Homo sapiens: one gene and its partners. The protein of the gene in region 1 interacts with the protein of each later gene in a pairwise test. Each region holds a gene or a part of one and is shown in the gene's direction. Other genes may lie near its edges.

Evidence for each region. The genes of interacting proteins can lie anywhere in the genome.
Region 2: the proteins of SLC7A1 (region 1) and SLC39A9 interact in binary tests that used the Homo sapiens proteins (3 or more experiments, as listed by UniProt).
Region 3: the proteins of SLC7A1 (region 1) and TMEM19 interact in binary tests that used the Homo sapiens proteins (3 or more experiments, as listed by UniProt).

Annotation. Positions count from the first base shown.
Region 1 is NC_000013.11:29,515,668-29,522,691, reverse strand, and holds part of SLC7A1 (high affinity cationic amino acid transporter 1), read left to right. Parts: intron 1-235; coding exon 236-375; intron 376-3,142; coding exon 3,143-3,245; intron 3,246-4,901; coding exon 4,902-5,119; intron 5,120-5,381; coding exon 5,382-5,548; intron 5,549-6,445; coding exon 6,446-6,554; intron 6,555-7,024. UniProt on the Homo sapiens protein: High-affinity, low capacity permease involved in the transport of the cationic amino acids (arginine, lysine and ornithine) in non-hepatic tissues.
Region 2 is NC_000014.9:69,436,668-69,443,691, forward strand, and holds part of SLC39A9 (zinc transporter ZIP9), read left to right. Parts: intron 1-5,164; exon of another isoform or gene 5,165-5,305; intron 5,306-5,401; coding exon 5,402-5,599; intron 5,600-7,024. UniProt on the Homo sapiens protein: Transports zinc ions across cell and organelle membranes into the cytoplasm and regulates intracellular zinc homeostasis. Participates in the zinc ions efflux out of the secretory compartments.
Region 3 is NC_000012.12:71,681,526-71,689,081, forward strand, and holds the start of TMEM19 (transmembrane protein 19), read left to right. Parts: upstream 1-4,556; 5' UTR 4,557-5,155; coding exon 5,156-5,285; intron 5,286-7,556.

The DNA of each region.
Region 1 (7,024 bases):
AGATAGATGTTCCCTATTCTTTACCTTAATCCTTATTCACAGTGTGTGCTCTTTCTGGGATTGATTTATTAAATGCCAAGTCTTTTAGCCACAGGCCTCACCCAGCGTGGAGGGACGGCAGCTCTTGGTGAGCTCAGACTCCCTCTCCTCCGTGGTAAACCGAGCATGGCTGGATGTGGTGCCTTTATCCCTTATGAGCCAGGTTCACTCACGCGGTTTGCCTCTCCCCATCTAGTCTTCTAGGTTCCATGTTTCCCATGCCTCGGGTTATCTATGCCATGGCTGAGGATGGACTGCTATTTAAATTCTTAGCCAACGTCAATGATAGGACCAAAACACCAATAATCGCCACATTAGCCTCGGGTGCCGTTGCTGGTGAGTACTAGAACTCATTTCACATGGAAATGTTTTAACAATGGAGTCATTACTCCCTAGGGAGACGTCTTGCGCAGTTCTGGTCTGTGAGTAATCTTAACTGGTCTTTTTAACTCCTGGTTTTTATACTTGGAGCCTGGTTCATTGAAAGTTGACTGACCTTTTGACAAAAGGCAGAGGCCCGTTTGACAGAGGATGGGAGAGAATTTTTGAACAGTTTGCACTCTGGTTTTCATCTCAATGGGCGGAGCTTAGAACACACAGTATTCGAAAACCTTTTCTCCCCATTTCTGGACGTTTCCCTGAGTAGTCAAGGGCAGGCTGACACCTTCCTGCATGACACAGGCCAAGGGAGACCTCGCCAGTACCTGGAAATTCGGCGTCCATTTCTGAATTCTCTGGAAAACAAGTGTCCCTTATGATCAGTGTTTTATGAAATGTGCCGCCTCTTCCCCAGAGAGTATCAAGGGTGCTGCTGATGAAGCCACTTGCCCCTAAGTTTATACGTAATAGCAGACCCAGTGGAGTTTCATCTTGTCAGATGAGCCTCATCGCTGAGAGGACCATTTTGATGGATGAAATCAGTGGACTAATCTGAGCCGTGTAGGTGTTCCAGGGCCCCAGATGAAGGAAAGGAGAACCTACAAGGAAGCTCGTGTGCACACTGTACCTGTGGTCTATGTCTCCTCCTTTCGCGATTGCATTTCATAGCCCCGAGAGGCAGACGCCCGCCCCTTTCGCAATTGCATTTCGTAGCCCCAAAAGGCAGACGTCAGCCCACTGTACAGATGTAGAAGTGGAGGCCCAGGGAGGTGAAGCGAGGATGTGCACCCAGGGCGGTGGAGCGGCCTTGTGATTCCAGGGTTGTTTTTATGCCAAAGTAGCCAAGCTCCTTCCAGAGTCTGAGCAGAGCAGTGGGTCTTTTTGGCAAATTAGGGCATGTGAGATCAGTCACAGTTTCTAACACAGCGACTTGTCAAATAGCCATTGGTAAGGCACTTGACCTTCTTAAATGAATGAATTATTCACTAAGTTTTATTAGCATTTATGCCTTTAGCAAACTGTGCTTAGTTTTGTGGATTAATATTGTATAATAAAACACACCTATTTTTAAATTATGAAACATTTTCTTATGTGATTCTATGCTCTTGAGAGTGACCACAGTGGTCAGATTGAGAGGCACTATACATCAGAATGTGACCAGTATATTTACAGGATTAAGGACTTGGAAATAGTCATTGTTTTCTCAGGCTTTACGTGGAATTTGATCATATTAAAGACTGGCCTTAATTTCCTTCCCCTGCTGATAGAGGGAGATCAAATCATGCTCTTTGAAGTGACTGTAAAGTACATGCCATTCACAAAATCCAGGATTTACCCTTTTCATTTGGTGGGAGTGGTAAATAAGTATTTGGTTTTCTAAAATCACCTCACATGGAAGAAATTAGTCTCAAGTTTCCCGTGAGTAGGAACATCGGCATTTGTGGCATGCACAGTTGGGCGCTGTTCTGATTATCCAAAAGGCCCTCCCTCATTGCTCTTTAATTTTGTGTTTTATTCTCCATTTAAATTTGTTTTAGTTGCAGTGATCTAGAGGGGCTTGAGAGATATTTGTGGAAAAATAATGGCTTTGTGTTTATATTTTAGCTTGTGTTGATTGCATGTGTTTTGAAAATATCCCAAAGCAGATGTAGCCAAGTTGTTTTTTAATGAGTACTTGACATACACACCCATGTGAATAGACACGTATACTCTCACAACGCTCACAAAAGATGTTCAAATAAGGGTGCAGGTTTTAATTCATTTTAAAGGCAAGGGACACAGTGAAGGGGCTGATACTATATTGTTTGAGAACAACTCTTCAGATTTCTTCCACGTGAAGTGACTTCACATGTGAAGAACTCTGCTCTCCTGCCCGCCTGCCTGGGTTAGGACCTCCTGTGAGTCCTCCCAGAGCACCAGACTTGCCCTTCTTTATCACCCAGCACTGTTGTCCACTAATGCCTGTGTCTTGGTGGGGTACACTCAGGAAGGCTGGGGACTGTGGTCTGCCCTGTTCAATAGTGAGTACCTAGAACCCAATGATGGGCACACTCTGACCGGAGCTGGATGGATGGAAGATGGGTAGATGGATAGATGCTGAATGGATGGATGGGTGGATCGGATGGATGAATGGATGGATGGATAGATAGATGGATGAGATGGATGGGAGATGGGCAGATGGATGAGATGGATTGATGGATGGATGGTGAGTGGATGAATGGAAGATAGGTGGACAGATGGATTGATGGAGAATGGATGGACCGATAGGATGGATGATGGATGGATGCACATGAGTCTGTGAATCAGCATGGTCTAGAGGAAGACACACAGGACTCAGAGTCATAAGAACCCAGTTCACATCCTTATACCCTATGCTTGTGAACTGTGTGACCTTAGATGAGTCTCCTAACCTTTGTGAATGTTTATATCTATAATGTAGGGATGGCTTACAAAGTTGCCATTAAAATCACAAGAATGAAGGGATTCTCTATACAAATGTTAATGATGATTACTGTCTGTTGAGGACTGTGTCTGTGATTTAATCACAAGCTTAAAGGGAAGCTTGACTTCCCTTTAAGCTGTGTCTTTCCATGGGAAGGCCAGGGAGGGGGTGGGAGTAAAAGCAGCCCCCTTCGCTGCCCTGGATGGTGGGCGGCAGTGGTGGTCCTGGTTGTCATTGCATGCAGATGGCCCTCCACAGATCCTGGTGTCTGTCTCTTCCCAGCTGTGATGGCCTTCCTCTTTGACCTGAAGGACTTGGTGGACCTCATGTCCATTGGCACTCTCCTGGCTTACTCGTTGGTGGCTGCCTGTGTGTTGGTCTTACGGTATGTATGGCTTTTGGGGGTCTCATGACAGAAATGCAGATGCACCTGGTAGCCTTTTCACAGTTCAGCTATGGTTTATGTGATGAATGAAACTTTTAGGTTGGTGATAGCTCCATTGGGAGCTGCCAAGGAGAGGGGAGGACCTGGGTTGAGAGCCCAGTTAGGAGGACGTCCTTGGCAAGAGTTGGGTGGCCCCTCACCCCCCTCTATCATGTGCCCTCATTTTTATGGCTAAATGTTGGGTGGATAGAGACAGATTCTCGGTCCAACTATTAGGCCAGGATCCTGGGATCAGAAGGTTTGAAGACTGATTGCAACTTGGTTCAGATTCTTGGGACAGAGAGGATTGAGGGCTGCCCTGGTAGGAGTTAGGAAAACCCAAGGCCTGTGAAACCCAGCTCAGCATAATGCTTCTGCAGCTTCGTTGCGCTGTGGCTGGAGGAATGAATCCCATTATGTGGCATGGCGTGCCCTAGGTTGATGTTCAGAGACACTGTGGAGTCAGCTTGTTATAGCCTGGTGGGGGCCAGGCAAGCCTCTCCCAGTCACAGTAAAGCTGCTCTGGGCCTAGGCTTGGTGTCTCGGTGTTCTCACCTGCCTCAGCACCCACTCCCAAAGCACATCCCTGCGCAGCTTCCATCCTGAGAACCTGTGCTCATGGAGACGCTCAGCACTGGTCTCCCCTCAAGAGCCTCCTCATTTCTTTTCAGGGATTCCCACCTGCAAGGCCATTGATTGCATTTCCAAGGTGTTCAGCAGCTGATGCACATAAAACCCGGGCTGAGCCTTAGCAGAAGCTCTTTAGAATCAGCTAAGACTATTGGGGACCCCTTATTCCTCCCAAGGGGCCCAATGCTAGAATATTCTCTGAGGTCTCCCACTTTCTTAATTGACCGAGTGGGGTTGCACAAGTGAATCCATACAAAAATGGTTAATATCTTTATACTCCCTCTTAGAATTGATCATATGCAAAATAATTCATACAGAACTCTGTGTTTCAAAGCTGGTGGAAAAGATTTGCACTCTGTTCATTTCGGGTGGGAAGATAAGGCACCTCATTCAGAATGGATGCTCCACTAGCAGGTAGCTCATGTCTTGGAAATCACGCTGCAGGCTCGGCCCTCCAACAAGCCACATAGAATTATTTACCCTAAGGTACTTGGAGTTTTAAAATAAATTGATCCAATTAAGTCACACAAATAGAATTTCTCAAATCCATCTAGCCTGCAGCCACATTTCTCTGGCTCTCTGTGCCAAATAGGATCCTGGCATTACTGCTTCCTATTTCTCTCCTTCCCTTTTGCTCCCTACAGCAGTAATTTTGTGGGAAGTGGCCTAGTATCTTTAGCATCTGAGGGCCGCTGCCACTTCTCAGAGCAAGAGAGATCCTCTCAGGGTATTCCTCTGGGCTGCTCATGGTGGAGGTCATGTCGCCCCGAAGGAGAGACCATGGAGGATGTTCCCCAGAAGCAACAGCGGGAGGTGGTGTTCCCGGTCTCTCCTCGTCTATCTACAATGCAGCATTTGACTATATCCTTCCCATTTTATACCTTGTGTCCCGGGCAGCTCACTTTGGAGGCTTATTGAGAACTTGAGTTGGTGCACGTCATTTTGCTTGAAGCAGATGTGGCGGTCACGCAATGCCTTTCTTCCCAGGTACCAGCCAGAGCAGCCTAACCTGGTATACCAGATGGCCAGTACTTCCGACGAGTTAGATCCAGCAGACCAAAATGAATTGGCAAGCACCAATGATTCCCAGCTGGGCTTTTTACCAGAGGCAGAGATGTTCTCTTTGAAAACCATACTCTCACCCAAAAACATGGAGCCTTCCAAAATCTCTGGGCTAATTGTGAACATTTCAACCAGCCTCATAGGTAAGAGCTAGCCCTTCCCTGGGGCCTTGCTTGTTGGCATTGCATGGTTTCTAGGCAGTGGAGCTGGAGTTGGGGGAAGGTGCCAGAGAAGATGAGCATCTGTCTTGCTCCTGGACTGGGACATAGTTACTCTGTGTTAACTGTAGTTGTGCCTTCGGAAATGGAGCCTCTCTCTCCACAAGTTTAGGGGAGAACAGTGGATGCCTGTGGGAAATTGGGAAATGGTTGAGTTGCAGCTTGCTGTCTTTTCCTTCCCCCTTAGCTGTTCTCATCATCACCTTCTGCATTGTGACCGTGCTTGGAAGGGAGGCTCTCACCAAAGGGGCGCTGTGGGCAGTCTTTCTGCTCGCAGGGTCTGCCCTCCTCTGTGCCGTGGTCACGGGCGTCATCTGGAGGCAGCCCGAGAGCAAGACCAAGCTCTCATTTAAGGTGAGCAGCTCGGCCTAGGGAAGGAACCCTGGTACACAGACCCTGGCCCTCCTGATGCCTGGCCAGCCCTGCGTGGGCTCAGCCGGGCCTGGGTGCTCCCGAGGAAGGTTTTTGCTAGCCAGCTTCAGGTAAGATGGGGCAGGGGTCCTGAAGGCACAGAGAGGACCAGACCCTGGAAGGAGGCAGCAGCCCTTCTCCCCTGGACGTTTCCCTGAGTAGTCAAGGGCAGGCTGACACCTTCCTGCATGACACAGGCCAAGAGAGACCTCGCCAGTCCCTGGATATTCGGCATCTATTTCTGAATTCTCTGGAAAATAAATGTCCCTTGTGATCAGTGTTTTATGAAATGTGCTGCCTCTTCCCCAGACAGTATCAAGGGTGCTGCTCATGAAGCCACTTGCCCCTAAGTTTATACATAATAGCAGACCCAGTGGAGCAGTCCCTCCGGGGTGGTGGGATGCTTCTCGTAAATGTCTGCTCAAGTTGATGCATGAGTTTTCCAAGCCTTGGAGACGGGCAAGGCTTCTGCATTTTTAGATTACACAAATAATAAAAAAGGTTGTTGACCTTAGAGGTAAAGTGGAGGTCCGTCTTCTAGTCCTTTCTTTAGCAGGAGAATCGCAACAGAGAAAAATGAGAATGGAGTTCATTTGGCCATTCAGAGCTTAGAATCAAATCCCCACCTACTAAGATGTACCCTTGGGTGTGTTTGTGTGTGTGTTTGGGTGCGGGCTGTGTGTGGGGTGTGGGAGTGGGGGTGGGCACTCCCTCTCTCTTCCCCACACTCGCCCGACGGTCCCTGTCACTCTCAGTTGTGCTGCCTTTACTAGACAGTTTTACTGAACTATTGGAACCGGCGCCACTGCCATGGATTGAAGCCACCTCCTGTCTCTTCAGGTTCCCTTCCTGCCAGTGCTCCCCATCCTGAGCATCTTCGTGAACGTCTATCTCATGATGCAGCTGGACCAGGGCACCTGGGTCCGGTTTGCTGTGTGGATGCTGATAGGTATGTGATGCTGCTGCCAGCACGTCCAAGATCCTGGCTTCCCCTGGGGGTCTCCCTTGTTTCAGATTTCATAACAGAATGACGCACATCCAGTCAGCAGCTTTCTCGAAGATAATGCTGAATCCCTGGTAGGCTGTGAGTCCTCTCCTCCCTGTTAGATACTTTTTGTTTCCATTGCTTCTTGTCCAAACTATTTATTCTTTTGGGCAAGACCTTGATATTAACAGGAACAAGGTGATGAGTCTGCTGCAGATAAGGTACCAGTTATTTTCACCCCAGACAGGAAAGTCTGGCCTGTGCCTCCTGGCCCCCTGGCCTGCCCAGCACCAAATTGGTACGGGCACTAGGCCCAGGCAGGGTGGATGTCATGGGCTCCTCTGTGATTGCGTCTTCTCTGTGGAGGGAGAGTGCTTTGGAGCCTATGGGAGATGCCACTAGGGTGGGGAGCTTCCACATGAGATAGATCACCA
Region 2 (7,024 bases), on another chromosome or scaffold:
CTTGTGCCGTTTATACATAGGATTAAAGAACCCCTCTCTCAGCTCTTTCCTCTCCAGTGTTCCTTCCACATTGTTTTGCAAACAGACCCCATTTTCCTGGTCCTCTGTCAAGAAAGACAAGGTTTCTCTATAGAGCTGTGGCTGCATGCAACACTACATGTGTTGCCACCACATAGTTCCATGTGACTTGGGCTTCTATCAAAAGAAAGTAACAGCAGAAAAGGCAGAACAGCATAACCAGGTTTCCCCCATACACTTCAGACCACTGGGATCCCTTGCTAGCTCCGCCTCCCGGGTTCATGCCATTCTCCTGCCTCAGCCTCCCGAGTAGCTGGGACTACAGGTGCCTGCCACCACACCCGGCTAATTTTTTGTATTTTTAGTAGAGACGGGGTTTCACCATGTTAGCCAGGATGGTCTTGATCTTCTGACCTCATGATCCACCTGCCTCGGCCTCCCAAAGTGCTGGGATTACAAGCGTGAGCCACCGCGCCCGGCCTGGGATCCCTTTTTCTATTTGCTCTGGCCAGAAAGATGGGGTTTTAACTGCCTTTGTTGCCACCATGCAGTTCTGCAACTGGGGCTGCCTTAAAGGCAGGACCAGGAAAGAAAAAAGAGGAGGTAGAGAAAAAAAGGGGAGACTTTCCTGTACTTCACTACCTCTTAGCAACCTCTTTTCCTGGTCCTTTGGCCGGAAAGACAGGGTTTTTCTAGAAGTTTTTGCTGCCTTGCCTTCACTTGCTGTTGTTTACTTTTTGTAGTCCTGAAGTAGTTGTTTTTTGGTGTGTTTTGTCCAGTTTTTGTTGTAATCAGTGGGTGATTGACGTCAAAATGCTCTTACTGTAACATGGCCAGCATCAGATGTCTCCAACATTCCTTTTAAAATGTAAAATGTTAATACCTCTGTTAAAGAAGTTTTTTTGTTTGTTTTTTTTTTTTTGAGACGGAGTCTCACTCTGTCGCCCAGGCTGGAGTGCAGTGGCACCATCTCAGCTCATTGCACCCTCCACCTCCCGGGTTCAAGCAGTTCTCTGCCTCAGCCTCCCAAGTAACTGGGATTATAGGTGCCTGCCATCATGCCCAGCTAATTTTTGTATTTTTAATAGAGATGGGTTTCACCATCTTGGCCAGGCTGGTCTTGAACTCCTGACCTCGTGATCCACCTGCCTCAACCTCCCAAAGTGCTGGGAAGAGTAACTCAAAAAAATCTGTGAAGTAACTTAACCATGATATTACCTTTCAGCTAAGCTGTCTCCAGATTTTTTACATCTTTCTTCATACTGATGAGTTTAGACATATCATTGTAATTTTGTTTTTGCTGCTTTACTCTCTCTTTTCTTACCCTCTTCCCTTACCCTTTTTTTTTTTTTTGAGACAGAGTTTTGCTCTTGTCACCCAGGCTGGAGTGCAGTGACACCATCTCGGCTCACTGCAACCACCGCCTCCTGGGTTGAAGTGATTCTCCTGCCTCAGCCTCCCTAGTAGTTGGGATTACAGGCACCTGCCACTAGGCATAGCTAATTTTTGTATTTTAGCAGAGACGGGGTTTCACCATGTTGGCCAGGCTGGTCTTGAACAACTGACCTTAGGTGATCCACCTGCCTTGGCCGCCCAAAGTGCTGGGATTACAGGCATGAGCCACCGCGCCTGACCCCCCTCTTTCTTTATTGTAGACCAAAACAACTTTTCTTCGTACTTCAAGAAAGACGTTTGTATACATGTTACTACAGCCTATGGTTTCGTTCTTCTGTGGACCTTATAATTATAATACATTGTTTTCAGAACTCAGTATATCATGTTAACTAAGTGCTCTGATGCTTTAATAAGCATTATTAAATACTAATTAATGTAAAAAGGAACCTCTTACTCTTCTGTAATTATAGCTCTAAAATCACTGGAATTAGATGATTATCAGCTTTCACGTAAAAAAAAACTGTCTATAGAAACAAGTTTTAAGAACTTCAAAGATTGTTGGGTAATGCAGCACTTTACTGTGCAGCCAAAATTTGAAAACATCTCAAAATTCTTTGGACTGTTAGAATTGGTATGTTTAGGAAGGTAGACTATTGGGTCAAAGATGAAAATATAAATGTGATGTATTGTCAAAACTGCTATTGTCAGCCATGGCTCAATGTAGATTATCCCACTCATTTTTATCAGTTCTGTAAGAATGCCATGTATCAGATTCTTTATAGAGGTATGATTAACTGTGGCTTTTTCTGTCACTTTACTCTACATTAAATAAAATATAGGGGGCCCTAGCCAGAACAGTCAGGCAGACAAAAAAGATAGAAGGCATTCACATTGGAAAGGAAGAAGTAAAGTTGTCTCTGTTTTCAGGTGAGATGATCTTATGCATAGAAATACCTAAGGATTCCACACACAAAAAAATTAGAACTAATAAACAAATGCAGTTAAGTTGCAGGATACAAAATCAGCATACAAATATCAGTTGCATTTTTATACACTAACAATGAACTATTTGAAAAAGAAACTATGAAAACAATTTCATTCATAATAGCATCAGAGGGGGAGGGAAAGCATTAGGAGATATACCTAATGTAAATGAGGAGTTAATGGGTGCAGCACACCAACATGGCACATGTATACATATGTAACAAACCTACACGTTGCGCACATGTACCCTAGAACTTAAAGTATAATTTTTAAAAAAATAATAATAGCATCAGAAAATAAAATAAAATAAAATACTTGGGCATAAATTTAACCAAGGAGGTAAAAGATCTATATGCTGAAAACTATAAAACATTGATTTAAAAAATTGGAGAAAATATAAGTAAGGTATTCTGTGTTCATGAATTGGAAGAATTAATATTGTTAAAATATCCGTAGTACCCAAAGTGATCTACAGATTTAATGCAACCCCTATCATAATTCCAGTGGCATTTGCTATGGTTTGGATATTTGTCCCCTCCACATCTAGTGTTGAAACTTGATCCCAGTGTTGGAGGCGGGGCCTGGTGGGAGGTGTTTGGGTCATGAGGGTGGATCCGTCATGCACATATTGGTGCTATCCCCTTGCTGATGAGTGAGTTCTCCCTCTATAATTTAACAAGAGAACTGGTTGTTTAAAAGAGCATGGCACCCCTCCCCTCTCTCGTCTTGTGAAATACTGACTCCTCTTCCCCTTCTGCAATGATTGGAAGCTTCCTGAGATCCTCAGATTCGTGCTTCTTGGACAGCCTGCAGAACTGTAAGCCAAATAAACCTTAATAGAACGATCCTAAAATTCATATGTAACCACAAAAGGCCCTGAAGCCGGGGTAATTTATAAAGGTCAATTAAAGAGGTTTAGTTGACTCACAGTTCAGCATGGCTGGGGAGGCCTCAGGAAACTTACAATCGTGGCGGAAAGCAAAGGGGAAGCAAGGCACCTTCTTCACAAGGCCGCGGGAAGGAGAAGTGCTAAATGAAGAGGGGAAGGGCCCCTTAAAAACCATCAGATCTTGCAAGAACTCACCATGTAGTACACCTGTAAACCCAGCTACTCGGGAGGCTGAAGCATGAGAACCACTTGAACCCTGGAGGCACAGGGTTGCAGTGAGCCGATATCATGCCACTGCACTCCAACCTGGGTACAGAGTGAGACTCTGTCTCAAAAACATAAGAATAGTGTCAGGCACGGTGGCTCAAGCCTGTAACCCCAGCACTTTGGGAGGTCAAGGTGGGCGGATCACTTGAGCTCAGGAGTTTGAGACCAGCCTGGGCAACATGGCAAAACTACATCTCCACAAAAACAATATAAAAATTAGCAGGACTTGGTAGCTCACATCTGTAGTCCAGATTCTTGGGGGACTGAGGTAGGAGGATGACTTCAGTCCAGGAAATGGAGGTTACTGTAAGCTGAGATTGCACCACTGTAGTCTAGTCTGGGTGAAAGGGCCATACCTGTCTCAAAAAGAAAGAAAGAGAGAGAGACAGAGAAAGAAACAGAAGAGTACATTGTAACTGTTGTAAGGTTGGATATTATTTTGTGAAACTGTTTTGTTTTGTTTTGTTTTTTTGAGACAGAGTCTCCCTCTGTTGCCAGGCTGGAAGGCAGTGGCGTGATCTCGGCTCACTGCAACCTCCGACTCCCTGGTTCAAGCGATTCTCCTGCCTCAGCCTCCTGAGTAGCTGGGATTACAGGCACGCGCCACCGTGCCCAGCTAGTTTTTGTATTTTTAGTAGAGACGGGGATTCACCATGTTGGCCTTGATCTCCTGGCCTCGTGATCTGCCCCCCTTGGCCTCCCAAAGTACTACGATTACAGGCATGAGCCATTGCACCTGGCCTGTTTTGTTTTGTTTTTAAGAGACAGGATCTCTAGGCTGGACACAGTGGCTCATACTTGTAATCCACCACTTTGGGAGGTCAAGGTGGGAGGATCACCTGAGCCCCAGATTTCAAGACCAGCCTAGGCAACATAGGGAGACCACATTTCTACAAAAAAATTTTCAAATTAGCTGGTTATGGTGGTACTTGCCTGTGGTTTCCCAGTTACTTGGGAGGCTGAGGTAGGAGGATTGCTTGAGCCCGGGAGGTCGAGGGTGCAGTGAGCCATAATTGCACCACTGCTGTACTCCAGCCTGGGTGAAAGATGAGACCTTGTCTCAATTTTTAAAGAAGGCTTAAACTGCTTAATCTGATTATAAATGATAAATGTCTAGTATGTTATTCTCTATTCATGAAATATAGCAAAGATAAGCTTTTTGGCCTTTTGAAGCATTTATGTTTTAAATGACAAATATGTTACTGTAAACTGGGATTATCAGCTGGCCAGGTATCATTTACTGCAGTTCAGAGTCTCCCAACCTCCATATTTCTAGAACTGAATTTAGACTGAAGGATGTGCCTCTTAAACTGCTCTGCCCTTTTGGTTTCTTGCTGGCAATTGTCTGCTGATATTTTATAAAGCTAAAAATTTTCTACTCAATTTGTTCCTTATTTTACATTTTTATCTCAGCCTAGGTATAAACTAGATGAATTTGATTGCAATTATTTTCATTGTTACTGCTCTTCATTTGCCTATTTTCATCAGAAAAAAACAGTGTATTTTCTGGTGAGATTGGCATGAATTTCTCAGATAAAGGAATATTTGGGGATGGTGTCCCTTTGGGAATATGATTGCTTTCTTGCATGGTGATTTGCTTCCACTTCCCAGGTGTTGAGAATAATAGGCAGTCAGAAGGTCTGCATGCCAAAGGCAGAAGACATTTGGGAATTTTTTCATCATGAACTTTAAGTTGAAGGAGTTAATGATTGGCTGGATTACAATATAAAAAGTGGATGTCTTTACAGTAAAGTAAGTAGAGCTTGAAATACAAAGAATGGAAACTCCTACATGAAAATGTTTTTAGGGGAAAAACATATTTTCTCTTTATGGTTTATTCTGCTCTAGGAAAACACCACCAAGCAAGTGAAACACATAATGTGATTGCATCAGACAAAGCAGCAGAAAAATCAGTTGTCCATGAACATGAGCACAGCCACGACCACACACAGCTGCATGCCTATATTGGTGTTTCCCTCGTTCTGGGCTTCGTTTTCATGTTGCTGGTGGACCAGATTGGTAACTCCCATGTGCATTCTACTGACGGTGAGTGGCTCCAAGGCTTTCTGGGCAGTGCAATACATTTGCAGTTGAGAAAGTTACAAACGATCAAATATTTCAGTCTGTATCAGTGGCCATATTTAGTGCTAAAACTCTTGTCTTCCTTGGGTTCTAGTGAACATTTAACTAAGTGGGGAGAGCTAGTGAGTTGTGGCATGTGGCGCAAAGAAGTGTTTATTGGTTTATTACTTTGCTTGTCTTAAAGTTGTCACATTTGGTTGAGAGTCTAGGGCAGAAGTTCTTAACTTAGTTTTTTGCTGTGGAGCCCTTAGGCAGTCTAAAGACTGTGGACCTTTTATTGGAATATTGTTTTTAAATGTATAAAACATAGTACATAAGATCAAAGAGAAAACCACCTTTGTTGAAATACAGTTACTAAAACATCAGAACAAATTTGTGATATAGTAATGTATGTCTTTATCAGTGCATTAAATAATGAGATAATACATTTAAATCCTAAACAAGTTAGAGTTGAATTTTATTTTCTAGGACATTAGTATGCTAGCTATTACATAATAATATGCTTGGCTTAAGAACATTAAATTATGAGGTAGTCTGTAACAAGGCAACATGTATGTCAAGTTAAACATCTAGTTGATTTTGGGTTTTTGTTTTGATGGTTATTGGTGTAGAAAATCTTGATTTACAAAGGTATTTTCTTACAAATGTACCTAAACACATTTGTAGCTTGCTTTTTAAGGAATCATAAGCTTCTCTAAAGGACAACTAGAATTCCCCAAGACTTTTCAAATTTGACTCCAGTCATAGTAACTGTTTTGTTTTAAGATCAATGAATTTATCTTTGGCTAGGTCAACATTTTTCATACGATTTATATTAATAAAAAAGGATTCTGATACATGATACACTTCGATCCTGTGGTGATAGAAATAAATTTGAGAGTTATAAAACTTCTCCAGGGATTGATGTGTAGACATATTTTTTCAGATATGTCAGCAGGGAATTTTGCAGATAGGAAATATTGGAAAGCAGCATAAGTATCTTGGTCCCCAATGGGAGAGCCTTGTGACTATCACTGTTTGGTGGCTGAGTGACTGTTAGATGCAGAGCTACTTGATAGTTGCCCAGCTCCATCACATGAGCATCTGCAGACAGGAAAGCTGTAATCATGCAGTATGGCAGCAGTTCTATAAGTCCTTAATTTAAAGTAGTGATGAGTGAAAGCGATAATTTAAAGATAATCTACAACTGTAAAATAACCTGATTAGTCTGATTTCTACTGGCAGTAAAGATAGTGCTGATATTACTTGTGGTTTATTGTCTGCATTCATAATTAAAGGAAATGAGGGGGCAGTCACCATGACTCACCTGTAATCCTAGCACTTTGGGAGGCCAAGATGGGCGGATCCTTTTGAGTTCAGGAGTTTGAGACCAGCCTGGGCAACATGGCA
Region 3 (7,556 bases), on another chromosome or scaffold:
ATCCCAGCTACTCAGGAGGCTGAGGCAGGAGAATCGCTTGAACCAGGGGAGGCAGAGGTTCGCAGTGAGCCGGAAATTGTGCCATTGCACTTCCAGCCCAGGCAATAGTGTGAGACTGTTTAAAAAAAAAAAAAAAAAAAAAAAAAAAAAAAAAAAAAAAACTTGTTTCGAATACTGTAATTCAAAAAATGCTATCTTTTTTATTTTTATTTTTATTTTTTTTGAGATGGATTTTCGCTCTGGTTGCCCAGGCTGGAGTGCAATGGCGCAATCTCGGCTCACCACAACCTCTACCTCCCGGGTTCAAGTGATTCTCCTGCCTCAGCCTCCTGAGTAGCTGGGATCACAGGCATGTGCCACCATGCCCAGCTAATTTTGTATTTTTAGTAGAGACATGGTTTCTCCATGTTGATCAGGCTGGTCTGGAACTCCCAACCTCAGGTGATCCGCCCGTCTTGGCCTCCCAAAGTGCTGGGATTATAGGCGTGAGCCACCGTACCCAGCCCAAAAAATACTATCTTAACACTCATTAAGAGACACTGATCAAACTAGGATGTGCCAGACAGACATGGTGTCCGTCCTCAAGGTTACTGGAAAACAGTATTCCATTTCTTTATTCCTGCCCTCAATTGCTCCCCACCCTCTCCCTAAGGCCCTTTTAGAATGAGCTCAACCTAATACAACAAATCCATCTTCAAATTGCTCCCTAGTCTTTTAAAATCTATACTACAAACATTTAAAAAACAAAATATTCGGGTTTAATGTCAAGAAGGCATATACTGGTTGGATGCAGTGGCTCACACCTGTAATCCCAACACTTTGGAAGGCCAAGGCAAGAGGATCACTTATAGCCAGGAGTTTGGGACCAGTCTGGACAACACAGTGAGACCTCACCTCTATTTTTATATTAAAAATTTTTTAAAAGAGGTGTCTATTTCTCAGATGAATTTTCAGTTTAATAAATTATTTAGCAAACACTCCAAAATGTGTTATTTCTAACTCTTCTCCATTCTCTTGAACTTCCTATTTTCATGTTCTTTTTAACCACCAAACAAACCTTTACAAATTGCCCTTGTTTAGCTTAGTCACTGAGCAAACTCTTTGTCATCTTTCAATTCTTACCTTGGATGCTCCCCTCTCTTGTGTGACACCATCCCTAAACATACCAGAGTGACATAAGTGCTTTTCTCCTTGAGTCCTGTTTATATATGACTTGGATAAAGTCATCATCTTTTTATAATGTAATTGTCTACATGTCCATTTTCATCTGCTATGCTCCTTCACCACACATACACATGTGGTGTATGTGTGTTGGCACTCAAATCACTCAAATATTCGCACATTTCAGAAAATCTAAACCAATCCCTTTGAATTAGATTCAAAGGGATTGTAAATAAAATCTGATAATTTCCTATCACACAGTAAGTGCTTTTTGACATTAGGATAATTTTTGTGATTGGTATTGAATATAAATGTCTATCATAGAAAAATCCAAACTTTATATCAAAGAGCACTTAACCATAAATGGGTATTTATATTGTGAAATTTAAAGATCAGCGCAACAATGAACTTTCAGTTTATTCTATGATTGCTATAGTAAGTCTCAAACTGCATGTTTTCTACAGGAAATAAATCTGATGAAGACAATTAACTGTTGGAACCATTTAAACAAATGTGTTTGTTTCTTAACTTCTTAGAGTCATTAATAATACACTCTAACTATCCCATGTAGAGACAACATTTCTCAACCTTAAATTTGATCACAGGTATCTTTTGAGTGGTAGGGATGCCTACTAATAACAAAGAATAACTACTATTAAGTTAAAAAATATAGTTTAGGAAATGCCTAACCAGAAATTTTCCATTGCCAGAAAATGGCTTCCAAAGTAAATAGAAAAACAAAGACTTTGTTGAAATTTTTAAGATTGATAGTCTATAAAAATTGTAACAGTAAAATCGTGATTTTTTAAAAGTATACAAGAGCCCCTCCCACTCCCTTTATCCTTGGAGATACATTCCAACACCCTCAGTGGATGTTTGAAACCCTGGAAAATACCAAACCCTATATATACTATTTTTTTCCAATTCCTATATACCTATGATAAAGCTTAATGTATAAATTAGGCACCGTAAGAGATTAGGAGGAATACCTAATAATAAAATAGAACAATTATAACAATATATTGTAATAGAACTAAAATAAGGGCACTGTGATACTGCAACAGTCCATCTGATAACTGCAATGGCTCCTAAGTGACTAACAAGAGAGTAATGTCTATTGCATGGATGGATATGCTAGATAAACGGAGGATTCACGTCCCAGGTGGGATGGAGCTGGATGGCATGAGATTTCATCATGCTACTTTGGCATGCAATTTAAAACTTATGAATATTTCTGGAATTTTCTTTTTAATATTTTCGGATTGTTACCGGTGGAAGGTGTCCAGGTTCTTGGTGTTTTGAACAAAGAACTGGAAAAACACACAAGCAAAGCAAGGAAAGAATGAAGCAACAAAAGCAGAGATTTACTGAAAACAAAAGTACGCGCCACAGGGTGGGAACCATCTGAGCATAGGGGCTCAAGGGCCTCCTTACAGAATTTTCTAGGGTTTAAATACCCTCTAGAGGTTTCCCATTGGTTACTTGGTGTACACCTTATGTAAATGTAAATGAAGTACTAGCCCACAATCAGTCTGATTGGTTGTGAAAAACAACCAATTAGAGGCTGAAGCAAAGTTACAAAGTTACACTCCTACGCAAACGTCTGATTGGTTGCAGAAAGCTACCAAGCAGAGATACTTTCAATTTTCTATCTGCCACGCAGAAAAAAAGAGGGGTTTGCAAAGGGCGTAGCTTTGGGTCCTTTTGTTACTTAGGTATGGGAAGTTGGGGTTTTCCTTTTGATTTAGCTCTAGGAAGTCAGCATGAATCGGCCTTAGGTTCCCTGCCTCAATAGGAGACCCTATTCTCCTGCCTCAAGATCATGTTTAACCCTTGGTAACTGAAACTGCCTATTGCATATAAGAACTACTGTATTTTAATTATATTAACTCCTCTAAATTATTTTGGTCTTAAGCTAGAATAACTTTTATGGAGAAAAACATCTATAATTGGTCACTGAAAAAAATAGAAGGGAAAATATTCATCTAAAGGGTCAGTTCACTGACACTACTATTTAATATGCATTTTTTAGCCAGATCTAATAGTCATGAGAAAATCATCCCTGACATCCAGGGACTGACCTGACACAGCTACACCACAGTGTTGGGAGATAGCTTGACATTCACAACTAGGCTATGATTTTCCTATCGAACACCAACTAATCAGAGAGGGTCACTCTGTGACTGTGGTGAAGCAAGGCAAAAAAAAGAAAAAAAAAAAAAAGACCAGTTTATAATTTTGTCTAAGCAGAGACAAAAACAATGCGACTGTGCAAACCACAAAACATTAGCTTTCATTATTAATAATTTTACCCAGTAGTCTGGTAACATTGATACTGGCCAGTCAGCTTGGTGAAATAATCCAAACATTTACCTATGCAGAACAGACTAAGACAAAAATAAAGTAGGCACATAATACATTTCAGCATAAAGACCATATATGTATATTATCTAGTACAGGAAGCCCACTACTATTTAGTCCTACTTCACAGATTTGATTCTTAGTTAACTACTTAATTAGATGTCTTACCAAAGAAAATGACAAGCTGTCTTGGCATGTATTTTGAAATTTAAAATAATGTGAGCTTTTTTAAAGTAACTACTCTTGGGGCTTAAAACACAATTGCATACTGTGTCTGAAATGGATTTGGCTCCTCTTCTTACACTGTCAGCAATTAACTGAAAAAATTGATAAATATTATGTAATTATCAGTTAATTACTGTTAACCCAGGCAAACAAGTTAATTTCACATAAAACATGAAATCAGGCCGGGCGCTGTAGCTCACGCCATTAAACCCAGCACTTTGGGAGGCCGAGGTGGGTGGATCCCCTGAGGTCAAGAGTTCGAGACCAGCCGGGCCAACATGGCAAAACCCCGTCTCTACTAAAAATATAAAAATTAGCCGGGCGTGGTTGTGGCGCCTGTAATCCCAGCTACTCCGGAGGCTGGAGCAGGAGAATCGCTTAGAACCTGGGAGGCGGTGGTTGCAGTGAGCAGAGATCGTGCCACTGCACTCCAGCCTGGGCGGCAGAGAGAGACACTGTCTCGAAAAAAAAAAAAAGAAAAGAAAAGAAATCAGCCACGATTCAGATTTTTAATGCTAACAAGACGTTTTGCTTTCTAAATGCACACACCTTTAATATAAGGGGTGTGAGGACAGATATTTCCACAATCTAAGTGGTGTTATGACAATAATTACGAGAGCTCAGTAATAGAAACTATGTTTAACTTTACCTCGCTAGCAGCCAGGAGTCTAGCACATTATAGGTACTAAACAATGTTGTTTAGTACCTATAATGTGGTTTTGGAGAAGCAGTGCAAACGCAGCCGGCCAGGATGCCAGCAGTGCCTGCCCACGTGAGCTAGGCGACATCCCCCTAAGCGGCTGCGGCGCATGCCCACAGCGGGCGAGGCGCTAGAGGCGGGGGCGCCGGGAGGCGCGGGCTTTGCTCCTGGGGTCTCGGCCTTGGCCGGCTGGACCTGACCCTAGGGCGGCTTGCGCAGCTGTCGGGACGTGACTGCGTTCAGCCGCGTCGGGCGTGCTTCCCAGACTTGCCCAAGTTCGGGTGCCCTAGCTGCCCCTTTGCAGCCGCTGGCCTACCCGGCCCGCGGGTGAGAAGGTTGCGACGGGAGGTGGGTGGAACTCGCCAGCGCCGGGACCGCGGATTGGCTGCCTCGGCTTTCTCTTTTCCCCGTGGGCTCCGGCGTGAGGCGCTGAAGCGGCCGGCAGCCGGCGACCGGCCCTCACCGTCCGCCGGGTTGCGCTCTGCTTTTGCGGTGAGGCGTTGACCACGCCCATATGAATTGGAGCTCTCCGCCAGTAGGAGTTTCCGGAAGGAGTTTGAATTTTTGTGATTTTTATGCTTGTTTGGTCGGTGGAATATGTTGGGATTTATGTTTGCCTCTGAACAAGTGTCTTGCTCACATCGTAAATGACTTTCTCTCCGAAACGCTAAATATTCTTTCCCGCAGGAGCTCATATCCTTATTTTCCATGACAGATCTTAACGACAATATATGCAAAAGATATATAAAGATGATAACTAATATAGTTATACTGAGCCTGATCATTTGCATTTCGTTAGCTTTCTGGATTATATCAATGACTGCAAGCACCTATTATGGTAAGTCTGAGTGTTCTAAGTTGTTTCTCTGTAATCTAGTCAGAGGAAATTAAAACCATACCATTGTGAAATCCAAAACTCATATCCTCTGAATGGTTATGAATGGTTGTGTTTACTTAACTTCCATAGCCTGATTTAACTTACTAACATGATAGTATAAACAATGCCTTTAATAAATGCTTGTTGTGATAATTCGAGTTATACCTATTTCTTTTTTTTTTTAATTTTTATTTTGTATAAGATAGGGGTCCCTCTGTGTTGCTAGGCTGGTCTCAAACCCCTAGGCTCAAGTGATCCTCCCACCTGTGTCTCCCAAAGTGCTGGCAATACAGGCCACCACTTCTGGACTAGTTACACCTATTTCAAAATGTCTTTATATTTTATGTAACTATTCCATCTGTCTTGGTAAAAGATAAGTGAGGCGAATATAGCTTTGTAAAGCAATTACAGTGATGCTTTTAATTTTGAATAAGAATATTAGTAATGGGCCAGGCGCGGTGGCTCACGCCTGTTATCCCAGCACTTTGGGAGGCCGAGGCGGGCAAATAACCTGAGGTCGGGAGTTCAAGACCAGCCTGGCCAACACGGTGAAACCCCAGCTCTACTAAAACTAGAAAAAAGCTGTAATCCCAGCTACTTGGGAGATGGAGGCAGGAGAATCACTTGAACCCTGGAGGCGGAGGTTGCAGTGAACCAAGATTGAGCCACTGCACTCCAGCCTGGGCCACAGAGCGAGAATCCGTCTCAAAAAAAAAAAAGTAGTAATGTAGTTTATCAGTTTCACATGTTCTGTAAAAATAATAAGAATTAAAAACGGTATACTATTTACATTTGGAGAGCTGAAGGACTTATCTGCCATTTGGTTGCTTCAAAAGAATAGACTCCTTTTAAAGCCTAAAGCTACATTGCTTAAATATAAGGTACTCTGGACTCAGATCTTTAAAGTTTTAAAGGTGCTTTAGAGCATAAGCCTCCATTTACACAAACTTCCTTCTCCTATGAAAACAAAATACTGGTCAGTTTGCAACAAAGGAAAAATGAAAAGGAGAATGAGAATGCTTGTATCGTAAGGGATTGCCATTTCAGACTGTAGGCTTTTTGCAAAGAGACATGTGAATAGTTGGAAAGGGTTCTCCAGGCTACAGAAGCTCTCAGTGCAGTTCGTTCATAATGATTCACAGTGGGGCATCAGAGTTTTAGGGGAGGGGTGTAAGAAAAGATTCTTGTTAGTGACAGTATTTACTATGACTTGAACTAAATGGAATAAATCAGGATTTGTAAACTGAAATATCCCTCTGGGGCCAGTCACCTAATGCAAATGAATCTGTGTACGTTTTTGTGTATTAGACCTGTGGTAATAGTTTTCATTTCCAGAAATAGGATATTTCTCATCTTTTGTTGAATGCTTGGGCCCTCTTTGTCTTTCATTTCCCCTTTATTTTTCTGAGACGGAGTTTCGCTCTTTTTGCCCAGGCTGGAGTACAGTGGCACGATCTCAGCTCACTGCAACCTCTGCCTTCTGGTTTCTCCTGCCTCAGCCTCCCAAGTAGCTGGGATTACAGGTGCCTGCCACCATGCCTGGCTAATTTTTGTATTTGTAGTAGAGACAGGGTTTCATCATGTTGGCCAGGCTGGGTCTCGAACTCCTGACCTCAGGATCCTCCTGCCTTGGCCTCCCAAAGTGCTGGGATTACAGGCATGAGCCACTGCGCCCGGCCCATTTTCTCATTTTTGATAGAAACATAGATACAAGCAGTGGTTCACAGTTTTCTTTACCATAAGGAAATCACTTTGCCTTGGCGTTTAGGAGCCTATCAGGAGGGGTGGGAACTTTAAATGGGAAAGCCACGGCCTGTTTAAAGGAGGGCACCTCTCTTTACCTTAAGTCAATTCTGCCATGTTGGCCAGAACTTCCCAATTTTAAAACAGAAGCCAAGAATCTGGATTTTTATATGATATCTCCTAATCTTTAAATATTGACTAAAATTATTTGAAAACACTCTGCTAGCCAAACATCTGTGAGCTGGATGCAGCCTCTGGAATAATCAATTTCTAACCATTGAATGAGGTGTCTGTCCTCTGACAGGCAGAGAGGAGTAAGATCCTGTTACAAAAAGAGTTCGTTCTAGGTAGTCCTTGAAATTTAATACGTGCCCCCTTTAAAAAAAATGAACCAGAGGTTCATTTTAAATATCTAGATATCCATTATTATCATAAATAGCAGTAAAAGGTTTTCAAAACTTGGACATAACCTATTTGGCCATTCTCCAG